Regions from separate parts of the Homo sapiens genome. Here regions 2 and 3 are each linked to region 1. The links come from fine-mapping of genetic effects on gene expression. A gene starts in region 1. Each other region holds a variant in brackets. All regions are shown on one strand. Distances are from middle to middle.

Region 1 (5,225 bases):
TAAGGCAAAAAGAAGATGAATTTTCCAGCTGGGCACAGTGATTCATGCCTGTAATCCCAGCACTTTGGGAATACAAGGTGGGCGGATCACGAGGTCAGGAGTTTGAGACCAGCCTGGCCAATATGGTGAAACCCCATCTGTACTAACAATACAAAAATTAGCTGGGTGTGGTGGTGTGCCGCTGCTAGTCCCAGCTACTTGGGAGGCTGAGGCAGAAGAATTGCTTGAACCCGGGAGGCAGAGGTTGCAGTAAGCCAAGATCGTGCCACTGCACTCCAGCCTGGATGACAGAGCGAGACTCTGTCTCAAAAAAAAAAAGAAGATTAATTTTCCAGTTGTGATGGTGCTATAAAATAAAGCTCGTTGTTTTCAAAAGCTAATCCTGGGTTGGGCATGGTGGCCCACGCCTGTCATCCTAAGCACTTTGGGAAGCCAAAGTGGGTGAATTGCTTGAGCCCAGAAGTTTGAGACCAGGCTGGGAAACATAGCAAAAGCAGTCTCTATGAAAAATACAAAAATTAGCTGGGTGTAGCAGAAGTGCCTTGTAGTCCCAGCTACTTGGGAGGCTGAGGCAGGAGGATAGATTGAGCCCAGGATGTTGAGGCTGCAGTGAGCTGTGATCGTGCCATTGCACTCCAGCCTAGGCGACAGAGTGAGACCTTGTCTCAAAAAATAAAAATAAAAAAGCTAATCCTTTTAAGGAAAAAAATTAAATAAATAGCAGTGTGAGGAATATTTGAATAAAGCAAAAATTGTGACGGTAGTACTCAAAAGCGCCAAGATGGTGAGACGCTGCTTCAGGGTCCCTTGTGCTCTGTGTAAGTTTCCCCACCAGAGAGTAAATTTGTTTGACTCATCACTGCTGTTCATCCTGACATTTATGAAAGGCTCTTCAAGTTTTCTGGGATGAATGAATGAAGGAATGATTATGAGGCAGTCCTAGGCTGCAGGAGGCTGTAAAAGGTGGATTGTCTCACTTGTCTGTTTTCCACACACCCGTCCTTCCCCAAAGTTATCGGGAGCCCACTGGGTGAGCCCCTGTCCCAGAATCTGGTGTTCCATGTGGAAGATCCTCCTCCATGCGGAAGATCCTCCTCTGGTCCCTGCTGCCCCGGCAACCTGGGCCCTCAGGCGTGGCTGGGCTAAGGGTGGGGCCAGGAGTCAGGCAAAGGAATGTGCACTACTCCTGGCCAGCTGCCAAAGAGATATCAGGAAGGAGGTGGTTGCTATGGCAACTGGGGCATCTTGGGAGGTGAAGAGAGGTGATAGGTCCCGCCACCCCAGGCTGGGTGGGGTCCCCTGTGAGGTCCTGTGTGAGATGCAGGTTTCAATCTTGACCCTCTCCCCTCCTTTTGCACCTCCTGCCGTTGCCCCTGCAGGACTGGCTTCTGGCCAAGCTAAGGGTCCATTTCAGGGATAGGGACCCGGACCCAGCTGTGCTCATGCATCCCTCTTCTGTTCACTCCTAACTCTCCCTCCTGTTCTCTGGCAGGGTGGAGGGAGACTCTCCCCTCTTCCCCCCTCGCTCCCCAACAATTCATTAATTAGTTTCCTTAAGCAGCTTGCAATGCACAACATGCTTTTCCTCCCCCGGGGTTTCCCGAGACCTGCGGTCCCCTGTCATGCTGTGACTGGGAAAGGGGGAGGCAGAGGAGGTTGGGTTGAGGAGTCTGTCCTCCCACCTCTGCCCGTCTGCTGCCATCGATCCTGCTAACCACCACCTCTGCAAAAAGAAGCCCTGGGCTCCCGCCAGGCCTGCTGCCTCAGCCCTGCCCCCCTCCCTAGGGTAGCTTCCAGCCTCTGCAGCCCCCCCCACCCCCCGCCCTGCTTCGGATTCTGCAGATATGGCTCAGTGCAGCAGCCCCCGCCTGCTGGGAAGCGCGGAAGGGAGGGAGCCATCCAAGTGGAATTCGGGTTCCCTTCACTGCCAGGGGCTTCTCAGCACCCCTGGTCCCCTGCCCTCAGTGCTGGAGACCCTTGCTGGGCACTGGCTCCCTCTTGAAGCAGTCTGTGCCTTGCTCATCTGCAGAAGCAGGATTAGCAGTGGGGGCTATTAGGGGGCGACGGTAGAAGTGGGTGTTTAAGTGGGTGCATAACTGGGTTAATTGGTGTGGAATGGAAATCAGTGTGTGGCTGGATGGGGGCAGTAGGGGCAGCTAGGTGTATACCCAACAGCACCTCTGGGATTGGAAAACACCCCTGCTGTGGGCTGGAAGGAGGGTCCCATCGCCCCATTCCCACACATAGGGTCTCACTGCAGTGGTTTGGGCCCCACCCCACATGGCTCCCTTCTTCTCTTTCTACTCCCCTCTCTCCCCATGGGTCCGTCTCTCTCCCTCCGTCTCTCTGCTTCTCTCTCCATAGCGGTCTCAATCCCACTATCTCCCAGGCTCTCATTTTTTTTTCTCTCTCTCTCTGCATCTCTGTCTACTGCTCTCAGCCTCTCCCCTCCACTGGGAATCTCTCTGAGTCCATCTATTTGTCTTCCTGGGTCTTTGTATCTGTGACTCTGGATCTCCTGCCTCTCTTGGTCTCTGTCTCTTCCAGGTTCTCCCTGTCTGTCTCTTGCTATATCCCTTCTCTCTGTCTCTTCCTTCAGCTCTCACTCCTTTCCTCTGAACCTGGCTGTCAAGGGTTTCAGGAAACAGACACCCTAGGAGACAGCACTGGAAAGAAGAGGGACATGAACCTCCTCCCCTTCCCTTGCCCACCCCAGGGACCCTGAAATCTTCCAGAACGTCTCTGGTCGCAGACCCACCCGCTCCCACCCTGCAAGCTCATCTCTTCCCCGTCTGCTACCACCACGGTGCGGGACCAGCCACCCGGTTGCCATAGCGACCTGTCCGAGCATCCCTTCTCCCGGGACTGCCACTCTCCAACCGCAGGTCTGGCACAGGACGCCTGCCGGGGAGGGGGTGTCCCAGAGACCCGGAGGGGCGATCGGGGGGGCGCATTACAGGGGCTTCCGCCCACAGGAGGAGCGGACCTCCCTCCCCCAACTCCCTTGCCTTACCATTGCTTGAATCTCCCGACACCCTCTCTCCTAGGCTCTCAGATCCCGGAGCCCCCCTGCAACCCCCTCCCCAAACGACGCTCACCCTTTGTGGGGGTCTGGGTCGGGGTCGCCATGCTGGGCCGGAGCAGGGGGCTGCTGGATGCTTTGGCGGCGAAGGCGCGCTGCAGCAGCTGGAAGCAGGACGGACCGATGTGGGGGGGAGCTGGGGGGAGCCCTGGCGTGGGGGGGCCTGCAGCCAATGGGGGCCCGGGGAGCCCGCCCCCGTGCAGGCCACCCCCGCCCCCGCCCCCGCCCACCACCGTCGTCCCCGCCCCTTCCTCTAGGGTGGGGCGCCCCCTGCTGGGGCCCAGTGGCGCTGGCGTTTCGCGCTGAGGGACCGAGACCGACAAAGTGCTGTCGAGAGGAACGCACGTTTTATTGGAAGTCTTGGCGGCAGGGGGAGTCTGCGGGGGCAGGGCTGGGGAAGGGGCGGCGGAGGGGGCGGTGGGCGCGCAGGTGGAGCGTGGGAGATGTCAGGTGCCAGGGGAGTCCTGTGAGGGTGAAAAGGGTGAGAGGCGAGGGGGGACGTCCAGCCCCACCCCTCGCCGCCCTTCAACTCTGGCACTTGGCCCCCTCCCTCTCCCGCCTTTCCTTCCTCCCTCCTTCCCTCCCACCGCCGTGTCAGAGCTGCAGCACCTGGCCGGATTCCATCGCTCCAGGTGTTTCTACCGCCTGCGGGTGGACAGACCTGGGGGGAACACGGAGATCGGGGGTCATTCTGGAGAGGCATCCCCAGCTCCTGGGCAGGTGGGGCCCGCGGCGGGGCAACTCCCCGCCCTCCGCTTTCAGATCCAGCCCTTCCCTCTACGCAGCCAGGGAGGGCCGGGAAAAGCGGTCCTTGGAACCAGCCCTCTCCCCAGAATACCCGCAGTCTCCCCAGACTCACGGCGGATGGAGCTGCGGAAAGTTCCCTCCTCTTCATCGGGTTCCCCAGTCCTGGGAAGACAGAGGCAGAGGGATTTCGGGATGGAAAGGGGGAGAGGCTGCCCTTCTAGGAACCCCCCAGTACAAGCCTCCTTTCCCAGATTGGTGTAACTAGGCCCAGATATGGACGAAGAGCAGGCTCGGGGTCCGCCAGAAATGAGGAGCACCCAGGAGCAGCTTATGTGCTGGCAGGGGGCTTCTAAGCTGGTTAACAGTGAGTACCTCCGCGGATTTGGGGGCAGGGATGTGAAGTTGGTGGGGGAGGGATAGTCATGGGGACTTGGCAGACTGCCATGAGATGGCCTGGGTTGGAAACCCAGAACCCCCCATCTTCCACTTGAGTGATCTTGAACAAAGTGACTTTACCTCCCTGTGCCTTAGTTTCCTCATCTGTCAAATGGGGTTAATAACAGCACCTCCCTCCCAGAGGAAGTGAAACCGTATCTAACACGTGGTACACACCCAGTAAATATTAGCTACTACTTATGATAATATCTATAATTGTTCTAACATATTCATACATTGTCCATGCTTTAACATTTTATTCGAAGAGGAATCAAAGAGCTAGGAACAAGACTCTAAGCTAAACTGGGCCGCGTGTGAGATGATCTCATTTCACCGCCGTTTCTTCTTTCCTGCACTTTGTGTTATCACGCTTTGTGATTTTTCTATCTGTGGGGCTGTTGGAACCCACGGCCACCGCCTCCACTAGGCTGGGAGCTCGGCCAGGAAGGGCGGGAGGTTTTTTCCTCGCTTGGTCCCAGGGCCAGGCTTGGGCCATGGCACATAGTAGGTGCTTAATACATAGTCGCTGACGGGGATCGGGCTGCGGGTCAGGGGTACTCCCCGCCTCACCCGCGGCGCCCTCCAGAGCAGGAGCGGGCGAAGGAGGGCGGGGAGGGGCGTCTTACCTCTGCTGCTGGTTGAACTTGCACCGGCATCTTCTGCCTGTGGGCGTGGAGAGGTAGGAGAAGCTGAGGCTCCCTCCCGGCGGGCGCCAAGCGGCGCTGTAGCTCCAGCTCGCCCTCGCGAGGGGCGGGGCTTGGGGGACGGGGCGGGGCTAGAGGCGAGACCGGGGGCCGGGGAACCAAGGCAGGGTAGGCGGGGCAAGGCCTGGGAGGGGTTGGGGCGGGGCGGGGCCAGGGAGGGGCGGGACCAGGGAGAAGCGGGGCCAGGGAGAGGGGGGCTAGGGAGAGGCGGGGCCAGGGAGAGGCGGGGCCAGAGAGAGGTGGGGCCAGGGAGAGGC
Region 2 (5,225 bases), 44 kb before region 1:
GACCAATTTCTCAAAAACTACCAGCTACTACATTCACCACTGTTGAAATAGATAATATGAATAGTCTAGTAACTATTAAATAAATTGCATGTATAGTTAATGCCATTTTAAAAAATCTCCTGGCCCAGGTGGTTTCAATGGTTTTAAATAAGTAATTTAAAGAAGAAATAGCACTAATTCTTCATAATTTCTTCCAGAAAATACAAAAGGAGAAATACTCTCCAACTCATGTTATGAAGCCAGCATTACCCTGATGACAAACCAGATAGACAGTACAAAAAATAATAATAAACACAACTAAAATACTCCTCATGAATATAGATGCAAAAATACTCAATAAAATGTTAGCAAATTGAACTCGGCAATATGTAAAATGAGTAGTAAACTATGACCGGCCGGGCGCGGTGGCTCACACCTGTAATCCCAGCACTTTGGGAGTCTGAGGTGGGCGGATCACCTGAGATCAGGAGTTCAAGACCAGACTGACCAACATGGAGAAAACTCATCTCTACTAAAAATACAAAATTAGCCAGGCATGGTGGTGCACAGCCTGTAATCCCAGCTACTTAGGAGGATGAGGCAGGAGAATCACTTGAACCCAGGAGGCAGAGGTTGGGGTGAGCCGAGATCCTGCCATTGCACTCCAGCCTGGGCAACAAGAGTGAAACTCTGTCTCAAAATAATAATAATAATAAATGAATAAATACAATAAACTATGACCAAATGGGATTTATACTAAGAATGCAACAATGGTCCAATTTTTTAAAATCAATCACTATTACCATATTAACCATCTAAAGAAGAAAAATCATGATTATATCAATAGGTGCAGACAAAGTATTGACAAAATAAAACACTCATACATGTTTTGTTTTGTTTTGCAAAAAATAATCCTAGCAAACTAGGAATAGAAGAGAACTTCATCAACCTGATAAAGAGCATCAAAAAGCCTACAGCTAATATCATACCAAACAGTGAAAAATGAATGCTTTCTTTCTTAAGATTGGGAACAAGACAAGCATGTTCACCATTTCTATTCAACATCATATTGAAAGTCTTAGCCAGTGTAATAAGTCAAGAAATGGAAGTAAGAGGCATATAGATTGGGAAGGAAAAAATAAAACTGTTCCCATCCCCAGTTGAAATGATTGTTTATGTAGAAAATCTCAATAAATATAAAATCAATCAATAAATAAAACAAAAAACCCCTGGCACTAATAAAGAAATTTTGTAGGAAACACAAGCTAATATGGCAGATGTAAATCCAATTGTATAAATAATAACATTAAATGTTGATGAAATGAACAATTCAATTAAAAGTCAAATATTTCAGACTAGATTTTTTTTAAAAACCAAGATACAGCCAAAAGCTATCTATAGGAAAAACATGTAAGATTCAAAAATGTAAAGTAAAATGATGAAAGACAATATATCAATATATCATGCAGTGACTACAAGAAAGCTGGAGTGGCAATACTAACGTCAGAAAAAATAAGCTTTGTAACAAAAAAGTTATTACAGATAAAGAGAAGCATTGTATAATGATAAGGCGGTCAGTCCATCAGAATATATAACAATATAAACACATATACATCTAATAATAAAGCACCAAAATACATAAAGCAAAAACTAATAAAAATGAATAGAGAAATGAACAAATCCACAATAATAGTTGGAGACTTCAGTACCTCACTTCCAATAATGGATAGAACAACTAGGCATAAAATCAACAAGAAAATGGAAGATCTGAACAGTATTAATCAACCAGATATAACAGACAACTATAGCACACTTCTCCCAACAAAAGCAGAATACACAATCTTCTCGACTGCACGGAGAATATTCTGTAGGATAGAACCTGCACTAGGCAACAAAACAAATCTGTATAAAATTTTGATTTTAAAATTAAAATCAAAATCATGCGGCTGGGCACAGTGGCTCATGCCTGTAATCATAGAACTTTGGGAGGTTCAGGTGAGAGGATCACCTGAGGTCAGGAGTTCGAGACCAGCCTGGCCAACATGGCGAAACCCTGTCTCTACTAAAAATACAAAAATTAGCCAGGCATGGTGGCGATCTGCAATCTCCACCTCCTGGGTTCAAGCGATTCTCCTGCCTCAGCCTCCCAAATAGCTGGGACTACAGGCGCCCGCCACCACTCTTGGCTAATTTTTTTGTATTTTTAGTAGAGACAGGGTTTCACTATGTTGGCCAGGCTGGTCTTGAGGCCAGGCTGGTCTTGAACTCCTGACCTAGTGATCCACCCTCCTCAGCCTCCCAAAGTGCTGGGATTACAGGCATGAGCCATCGTGCTGGCCGTAAATTCTTTTTTTTTTTTTTTTTTTTTGAGATGAAGTCTTGCTCTGTCGCCCAGGATGGAGTGCAGTGGTGTGATTTTGGCTCACTGCAACCTC[A/T]GCCTCCCGGATTCAAGCGATTATCCTGCTCAGCCTCCAAAGTAGCTGGGATTACAGGTACCCACCACCATGCCTGGCTAATTTTTGTATTTTTAGCAGAAATGGGGTTTCACCATGTTGGCCAGGCTGGTCTCGAACTCCTGACCTCAAGTGATCCACCTGCCTTGGCCTTTCAAAGTGTTGGGACTGGCGTGAGCCACTGCGCCCAGTTGAAATAAATTATTAGAAGACATATACTACTGAAACTGATTCAAGAGAAATCAGACAATTTGAATAGTCCTCTAATAAGTAAAGAGATTGAATTAATGACCAAAGACACACACACACATACACACACACACACACACACACACACACACACACACCAAGAACCAGATAGCTTCACTGGCAGATTTTTCTAAAAATTTAAAGAAGAGCTAATACCAATTCTTCTCAAACTCTTGCAAAAATTAAAAAAAGGAGGCAACGCTTTCCAGTGGATTATTTGGGACCAGTATTACCCCAGTACAAAAACCAGAGAAAGACACAAGAAAACTACAGACAAATATCTCTTATAAATATAAATGCAAATATCCTTAACACAATACTAGCAAACTAAATCCAGAGACATATAAAAAGTGTTATAGACCACGACCAAGTGGGACTTATTCCAGGAATGTAACAGTGGCTTCACATCTGAAAATTAGTGTAATACACCATATCAACAGAATAAATTACAAAACCACATGATCATTTTAATGGACACAGAAAAGTCTTAAACCAGATGGCTTCATGAGTTAGTTCAACAAAACTTTTTTTTTCTTTTGAGACAGAGTCTCCCTCTGTTGCCCAGGCTGGAATGCAGCAGTGTGATCTCGGTTCACTGCAACCTCTGCCTCCCAGGTTCAAGGGGATTATCTTGCCTCAGGTTCCCGAGTAGTTGGGATTAGAGGTGCCTGCCAGCACGCCAGGCTAATTTTTGTATTTTTAGTAGAGACGGGGTTTCGCCATGTTGGCCAGGCTGGTCTCGTACTCCTGACCTTAGATGATCTGCCCCCCTCGGCCTCCCAAAATGCTGGGATCACAGGCGTGAGCCACCACACCTCATCACTGCAGCCACTATGGAAAACAGTCCAGTAGTTCCTCAAACTGTTAAAAATGCAGTCACCATTTGACCCAGCAATTTTATTCCTAAGAGAAATGAAAACTTATGTCCACATAATAACAAATACATAAGTTTATTTTCATATTATTCATAATAGCCAAAAGGTGAAAACAAAACCAAATATCTACAAACTGATGGAGGCATAAACAATATTTGGGGGGGCGGGGTCTGTAAAAAAAAAAACAAAAAAAACCCCAATATGTGGTAAATCCACACAATGAAATATTATTCAGCCATAGAAAGGAACATAGTACTGATACATGCTATGATGCGGATGAACCTTGAAGACATTACATTCAGTGAAAGAAGCCAATCACAAGACACCACATATTATATGAATACATTTATATGAAATGTCCAAAATAGGAAAATATATAGAGACAGAGAGTAGACTAGTGGTTGCTTAGGGCTGAGACATTTGGGAACAGGAGGAAAATAGCTATGGAGCATTGGGTTTCTTTTGTGGGGGTGATAAAAATATTTTAAAATTGGTCTGGGCACGGTGGCTCACACCTGTAATCCCAGCGCTTTGGGAGGCCGAGGCAGGTGGATCACGAGGTCAGGAGATCGAGACAATCCTGGCTAACATGGTGAAATCCCGGCTCTACTAAAAATACAAAAAATTAGCTGGGCGTGGTGGCGGGCACCTGTAGTCCCAGCTACTCGGGAGGCTGAGGCAGGAGAAAGGCGTAAACCCGGGAGGCCAAGTTTGCAGTGAGCCGTGATCATGCCACTGCACTCCAGCCTGGGTGACAGAGCAAGACTCTCTCTCAAAAAAAAAAAATGTTTTTAAATTGATCGTGATGATGGCTGTACATATCTATGGATATACTAAAAACCATTGACTTGTACATGATTTTTAAAAATTTTTAATTGCTGTGGGTACATCATAGGTGTATTTATTTATGGAGAACATGAGATGTTTTGATACAGGCATGCAATGTGAAATAATCAGATCGGCTTGTATGCTTTAAATGTGTGAACTGTATGGCATGTGAATTGTATGGTAAGCGAATTCTATTACAAAAATTAAAAAATTAAAATAAGAAAAAAGAGTTGCCCTTTCCATGACAGGAACAGTTCAATGTGGCTGGGCGCAGTGGCTCACACCTGTAATCCCAACATTTTGGGAGGCTGCGATGGGTGGAACACCTGAGGTCAGCAGTTTGAGACCAGCCTGGCCAACATGATGAAACCCTGTCTTCACTAAAAATATGAAAATTAGCTGGGTGTGGTGATGGATGCCTATAATCCCAGCTACTCAGGAGGCTGAGGCAGGAGAATCTCTTGAACCTGGGAGGTGGAGGTTGCAATGAGCCGAGATTGTTCCATTGCACTCAAGCCTAGGTGACAAGAGCGAGACTCTGTCTCAAAAAAGAAAAGAAAATTAAAAAAGAGACAGTTCGACGTAATTAATTAGCCATCAGCAGACTGGTTGATTGTCCTGAGGAATGGTGCAATAAATCATTGCTAATTATAGTCATCCTACAGTGCTAAGGAATGCTGGAAGTTATTTTTCCTATCTAGCTGTAATTGTGTATCCATTTGCCAACATCTTCCTATCCCCTTCAACCCCTATCCAGCCTCTAGTAACCACTATTACATTCTCTACTTCTATGATATCAACTTTCTTAGCTTCCACATATGAATGAGAATATGTGGTATTT
Region 3 (5,225 bases), 23 kb before region 1:
TGCAACGATTCCGGCATAACCGGGACAGCTGCCTGCACTTGCCACCTGTGGGTGAAGGAAATGATTCAGTCACGAGCTAGAGTGATATTGATTCTTATCGTGTGTTGTGGGGCTGGGGAACCAGATTGATCAACCCTGCCCCTCGGGAAACTCAAAGGCAACTCCATAAACAAATGATGGAGAAACACACCGAGAACAGCCAGTGCTGGGGCCCTGCGAGAGGCCCTTCCCACACAGGCTCACAGATGAGCCGTTTGGAAACTCCCATTATTTTGTATCTCACTTATTCATTCATTCAGGCACTAAGAACACAGTTGAGGACAAAGAAAAAAATCCCTGCCCTGGCAGAGTTGTCTTTCTATGGGGAAAGACCAACAAGGAGAAAAATTACAAAATCAAATGTATGAAGGTGCTAAGTGGGAGGGTGTTAAGTCCTACAAAGGGAAATAAGGCCAGGAAGGAGGCATGGAGGCCCAGGAGCTGGGCTCATCCTCACAGGGATGGCTACTGGGGCTTCAATGAGGAGGTTACTTTTTTTTTTTTTTTTTGAGACAGAGTCTTGCTGTGTCACCCAGGCTGGAATGCAGTGGCACAATCTCAGCTCACTGCAACCCCCACCTCCTGGATTCAAGCGATTCTCCCGCCTCAGCCTCCCGAGTAGCTGGGATGACAGGCATGTGCCACCAAGCCCAGCTAATTTTTGTATTTTTAGTAAAGACAGGGTTTCACCATGTTGGCCAAGCTGGTCTTGAACTCCTGGCCTCAAGGGATCCACCTGCCTCAGCCTCCCAAAGTCCTGGGATTACATACGTGAACCACTGTGGCCTGCCAAGGAGGTGACATTTGAACAAAGGTCTGAAGGACGTAAGGGAGACACCTGGAGGAAGGGTGTTACAGGCAGAGGGAACAGCAGCGCAAAGGCCTTGAGGTACGAGGACACAGATGGGTTCCAGAGACTCATCTGTGGCTGCTCCAGAGTGAGGGAGGGGGAACTTAGAAGCCAAGGGTACTTTAGAAAACACCTGCCACCCTTGCCTCCTCCAGCCCCTCAGCTCTCTGGCCTCGTCTTCTCCTCTCCCCCAACCTACCCTGTCCTGGCTACTTTGCCTCCTCTGCTGCTATAGCAATGGGCGCAGCTCATTCCTGCCTCCAGGGCTTGGCACTTGCTGCTCTCTCTACCTGGTGATTCATCTCATCATCAGGGATCAGTTCCAATTTCACCACTCCAGGGAGGGCTTCTCTCCCCACCCCTCTCTTCCCTGTCACTCTGCTTTATTTGGCAAATATCTTTCTCTGTATCCACTCATTCATGCATTTATTTGCTTATCATCTTCGACCAGATGTGAGCTCCTGAGGACAGGGACCAGGGCTGCTTGTCACCACCATGCCCCCAGCATCACCCAGCACAGGTTTGGCACAGACTAGGAGCCCACAAATATTTGCTGTTGGAAAAATACATGGCCCCAGAGCTAACGTTCAGGCTCTGCTCTCACACAAACCTGGGTCCAATCCTTCACTGATTCTTTTTTTTTTTTAAGTAAAAAAAATTATTTGTGTAGAGATAGGGTCTTGCTATTTTGCCCATGCTGGTCTTGAACCCCTGGGCTCAAGCCATCCTCCCACCTTGGCCTCCCAAAGTACTGGGATTACAGGAGTGAGCCACCGTGTCCCGCCAGCAAATGAATTTACTGACTCTTCTGTGCTGTGTGACCTTAGGCAAACTCCTTAACTCTCTGAGCCTTAACTTCTCCACTGGGGTGAGAATAGGACCTGGTGCAAAGTCAGGATCAACACATACATGTTGTATGACCGAGGCAACAGTGCTTGACTCTCAGATTCAGTGGGGATCACGCACACATCAGGAATCATGTCTTATGATTGTTAG[A/G]ATTCTGCCTCTCCCCTTAAGGCAAAAAAAGATGTGGCTATGCTCATTTTCTTGATGAGGAAGTTGGACAAGAGAGGTAATGAAACTTGGCATTGGTTATACAGATTAACTGATAGCTCGTGTTTTATTTCACCCACAACATTTTAAAAACCTTTTTAAAAAATTAGTTTCTCTGCTTGTTATTCTGCCTTTCCCCACAACTTCCTCTCCCTGCATGGGGCCCTGGGCCCCTTGCCCTCTGGTTAAGCATTGGCAGGAGACAGGGGGGTGGGAGGAGAGGGAGGTTTAGGTATCTGATCCCCACCACCCCTGCTCCCTCCTGGTTTGGTCACAAGTGAGGCAGTGGCTGGAACCCTCTTTCTGAGGCCACAGCTCCTGCCAGCAGCCCCACCTCCAGTTCCATCTCTCACCAGGCCTCCTGCAAAGCCAGTGCCTCCTCTTGTCCCTCAGGCTGGGGGATAACAGGTCCCCATCCTTGCTAGTCCTAGGGCACTGCACCATCTCATTGCCCTGCCTGTACCTCCAGAGATATCACTCTATTAAACTTTCTCCAGTTAATCGTTTGCAGGTCCTTCTGCCACCTGCCATGACCCTGATCAACACAGCTGTCAACATTTGAGTACCAAAAGATTTTACAGAAACATTAAGCTCTTAAAAGAGTAGTTACTCTGGCTGCTTCAAGCCTCTATTCTTGCTGGATTGAGTGGGTGGGGTTGTTCCATGAGGCATTTAATCCTCAGTTATCTCCTCCTGACACAGCCTTTTTCAGCCCTTGTTCCCTGCCAGGCCTGGGTGCAGTGGGCTTGTGACTGCTGGGGTGGTATGCTGACCGCCAAATGGCCCTTAGTCTCTACCCCTCCCTGTCAGTATCCATGTCCTTTGCCATGTGACTTTGCCTATCTTCCCATCAAGAGGTGGAGTCTATTTCCTTGAATGAAACCCAGCCTCATGACTTGCTTTGACCTATGGAATGAGGCAGAAGTGATAATGGCCAGTTCTGAGCCTGCATGCATTCACTCTATCTTAGATCCCTGCCACCACCATGCGAACAAGCCCAGGCTAGCTTAGTGAAGGATAAGATGATGTGGCAAAGAGCCAAGGCACCCCAGAAACAAAGTTTCCTGCTGACCCACAACTGAACTCAGATGCAAGAGTAAATCCAGTTGAGACCAGAAGAATCACCCAGCTGAGCCCAGCCTATGTTTCCAAACTGTGGTATTGAGAGCTCAATAAATGGTCATTATTTTAAACCACTGAATTCTGTGGTGGTTTGTATGTATATGCAGCTAATAGATACCTCATTTAAAACAAAATTGCCCAGGGACCTTTGAGAACCCAGCCCTCCGTCATAAGTCCCCCTCCTGGTCTTGGTGTCCTTCCCACCCAACCCCAGTTCTCACTGGTGAGGATGATGATGCCTGTGATGAACAGCACAGCTGCGACCAACAGCCCCCGTTTCCGGAGGGTGTGTTCATCTGCAGAGAGAAAAATGAAGGGGTAGAGTCAGACGGACCTCACCTTTCCTTCCCCCACATCTTCCTGTGGATAACTTACCATAGAAGAAGGGGTCATCCTCATGAAAACCTGGAGAGGCAGACAAAGAGCAAGTCAGGGTTCAGCAAAGGTTTGTGAAGTGAATACGTGAATGGCAAAGTCAGGAAAGGGGGATACCTGGGTACCCTTAGAACAAAACCCAAAATCTTCACCATGGCACACAATCTGGCTCCCATTATTCCTCTAATCTCATTTCCTTCCTATCCCCCTCACTCCCTGCACTCCAGCCCTACTGGCCTCCCTGCTGTTGAACATGCAGACACCTTCTCACCTCAGGGCCTTTGCACTGGCTGTTTCCTCTGCCTGGAACACACTTTCCCTAGACATCCGCATGGCTCCCTCCTTCACTCCCTTCCCAGTGGGGCCCTCCCTGGTTTTGTATATGAAATACAGGTTGACTATCCCTAATCCCCAAATCCAAAATCCAAAATGTCCCCAAATCTGACACTTTTTGATGTCATGTCAGGGGTGTTTGAACCAGAGCAACTCCATCTCGAATAGGGTAAAATAAGGCTGAGACCTACTGGGCTGTATTCCCCAGAGGTTAGACATTGTTAGTCACAGGATGAGATAGGAGGTCGGCACGAGATACAGGTCATAAAGGCCTTGCTGATAAAACAGGTTGCAGTAAAGAAGCCAGTTAAAACCCACCAAAACCAAGATGGCAATGACAGTGACCTCTGGTCATCCTCACAGCTCATTATACATTAGTTATAATACATTAGCATGCTAAAAGGCACTCCTACCAGCACCATGACAGTTTCAAATGCCATGGCAACATCAGGAAGTTACCCTATACAGTATAAAAAGGGGAGGAATCCTCAGTTCTGGGAATTGCCCACCCCTTTCCCAGAAAACTCATGAATAATCCACCCCTTGTTTAGCATATAACGAAGAAACAACCATAAAAACAGGCAACCAGCAGCCTGTGGGGCTGCTCTGCCTATAGAGTAGCCATTCTTTATTCCTTTACTTTCTAAATAAACTCTATGGACTCTCTGAATTCTTTTTTTGTGCAAGATCCAACAGCCCTTTCTTGGGGTCTGGATCGGAACCCCTTTCCAGTAACAGTCTGACATGACACCGAAAGGAAATGCCCACTGGAACATTTTGGACTTCAGATTTTTGGGTCAGGAAAGTTGAACTGGTAAGTATAATGCAAATATTCTAAAATCTGAAATCTGAAAGTCTCCTGGTCCAAAGCATTTTGGATAAGGAATACTCAACCTGTACTCCCCAGTCACTCTCTAACCCTACTTTACTTTTCTTGATAGCAAGTTGAAATCAACTGATACATAATTATGATTATTTCTTGTTGTGTTTCTCTTACCACTAGAATAGTAGTTCCATGAGGGCAGAGATTTTTTCTGGCTTGTTCACCACTCTATCTCTGTCCCCTAGAACTAGCCTAGCACACAAGTACTCAGTGACTATTTGTTGAATGAATGGATGAATGGGCTCTCTATGTGACCCATGGGCGTATCATTTCCATTCATTCACTGGGGGGCTGACTGGGCAGGAAGTGGTGGATAAGATCACCAGGGAAAGAATCAAATTGCCCCTAGAAACAGAGGTCCTTGCTGACCCACAACTGACCTCAGACGCATGAGTAAGTCCAGCTGAAACCAGAAGAACCAGCCAGCTGAGCACACCCTAGATTTCCAAATTGCAGAAATGAGAGCTAAATAAATGGTTATCCTTTTAAGCCACTGAGTTTTTAGGTGGTTTGTATGCAGCAATAATTTATGCATTCACTTATCTATTCAGACATTTATCATGTGCCCAC

The links. PIP is the estimated chance that this variant, and not a neighbour inherited with it, causes the effect.
Region 2: its variant is the best candidate, but not a certain one, in a credible set for the expression of FXYD7 in blood mononuclear cells (TOPMed, PIP 0.54).
Region 3: its variant is the best candidate, but not a certain one, in a credible set for the expression of FXYD7 in whole blood (INTERVAL, PIP 0.83).

Annotation. Positions count from the first base shown.
Region 1 is chr19:35,141,238-35,146,462 of GRCh38, reverse strand. FXYD7 (FXYD domain containing ion transport regulator 7) reads right to left here and starts at 3,208. Exons shown (of 6, transcript NM_022006.2): 1 at 3,099-3,208. The coding sequence starts at 3,129. FXYD1 (FXYD domain containing ion transport regulator 1) reads right to left here. Exons shown (of 8, transcript NM_021902.4): 5 at 4,891-4,927; 6 at 3,942-3,991; 7 at 3,692-3,743; 8 at 3,354-3,546. The coding sequence ends at 3,721. RefSeq lists enhancers at 2,425-2,986, 2,987-3,547, 4,671-5,225 and silencers at 4,868-5,087, 5,198-5,225.
Region 2 is chr19:35,185,426-35,190,650 of GRCh38, reverse strand. No RefSeq gene overlaps it. Among named protein-coding and RNA genes, the nearest start is that of FXYD5, 33 kb to the right of the region's middle. The variant A/T (reference allele first, on the strand shown) is at 2,415.
Region 3 is chr19:35,164,386-35,169,610 of GRCh38, reverse strand. FXYD5 (FXYD domain containing ion transport regulator 5) reads right to left here. Exons shown (of 9, transcript NM_014164.6): 7 at 3,440-3,469; 8 at 3,286-3,360; 9 at 1-45. Among named protein-coding and RNA genes, the nearest start is that of FXYD5, 12 kb to the right of the region's middle. The variant A/G (reference allele first, on the strand shown) is at 1,886.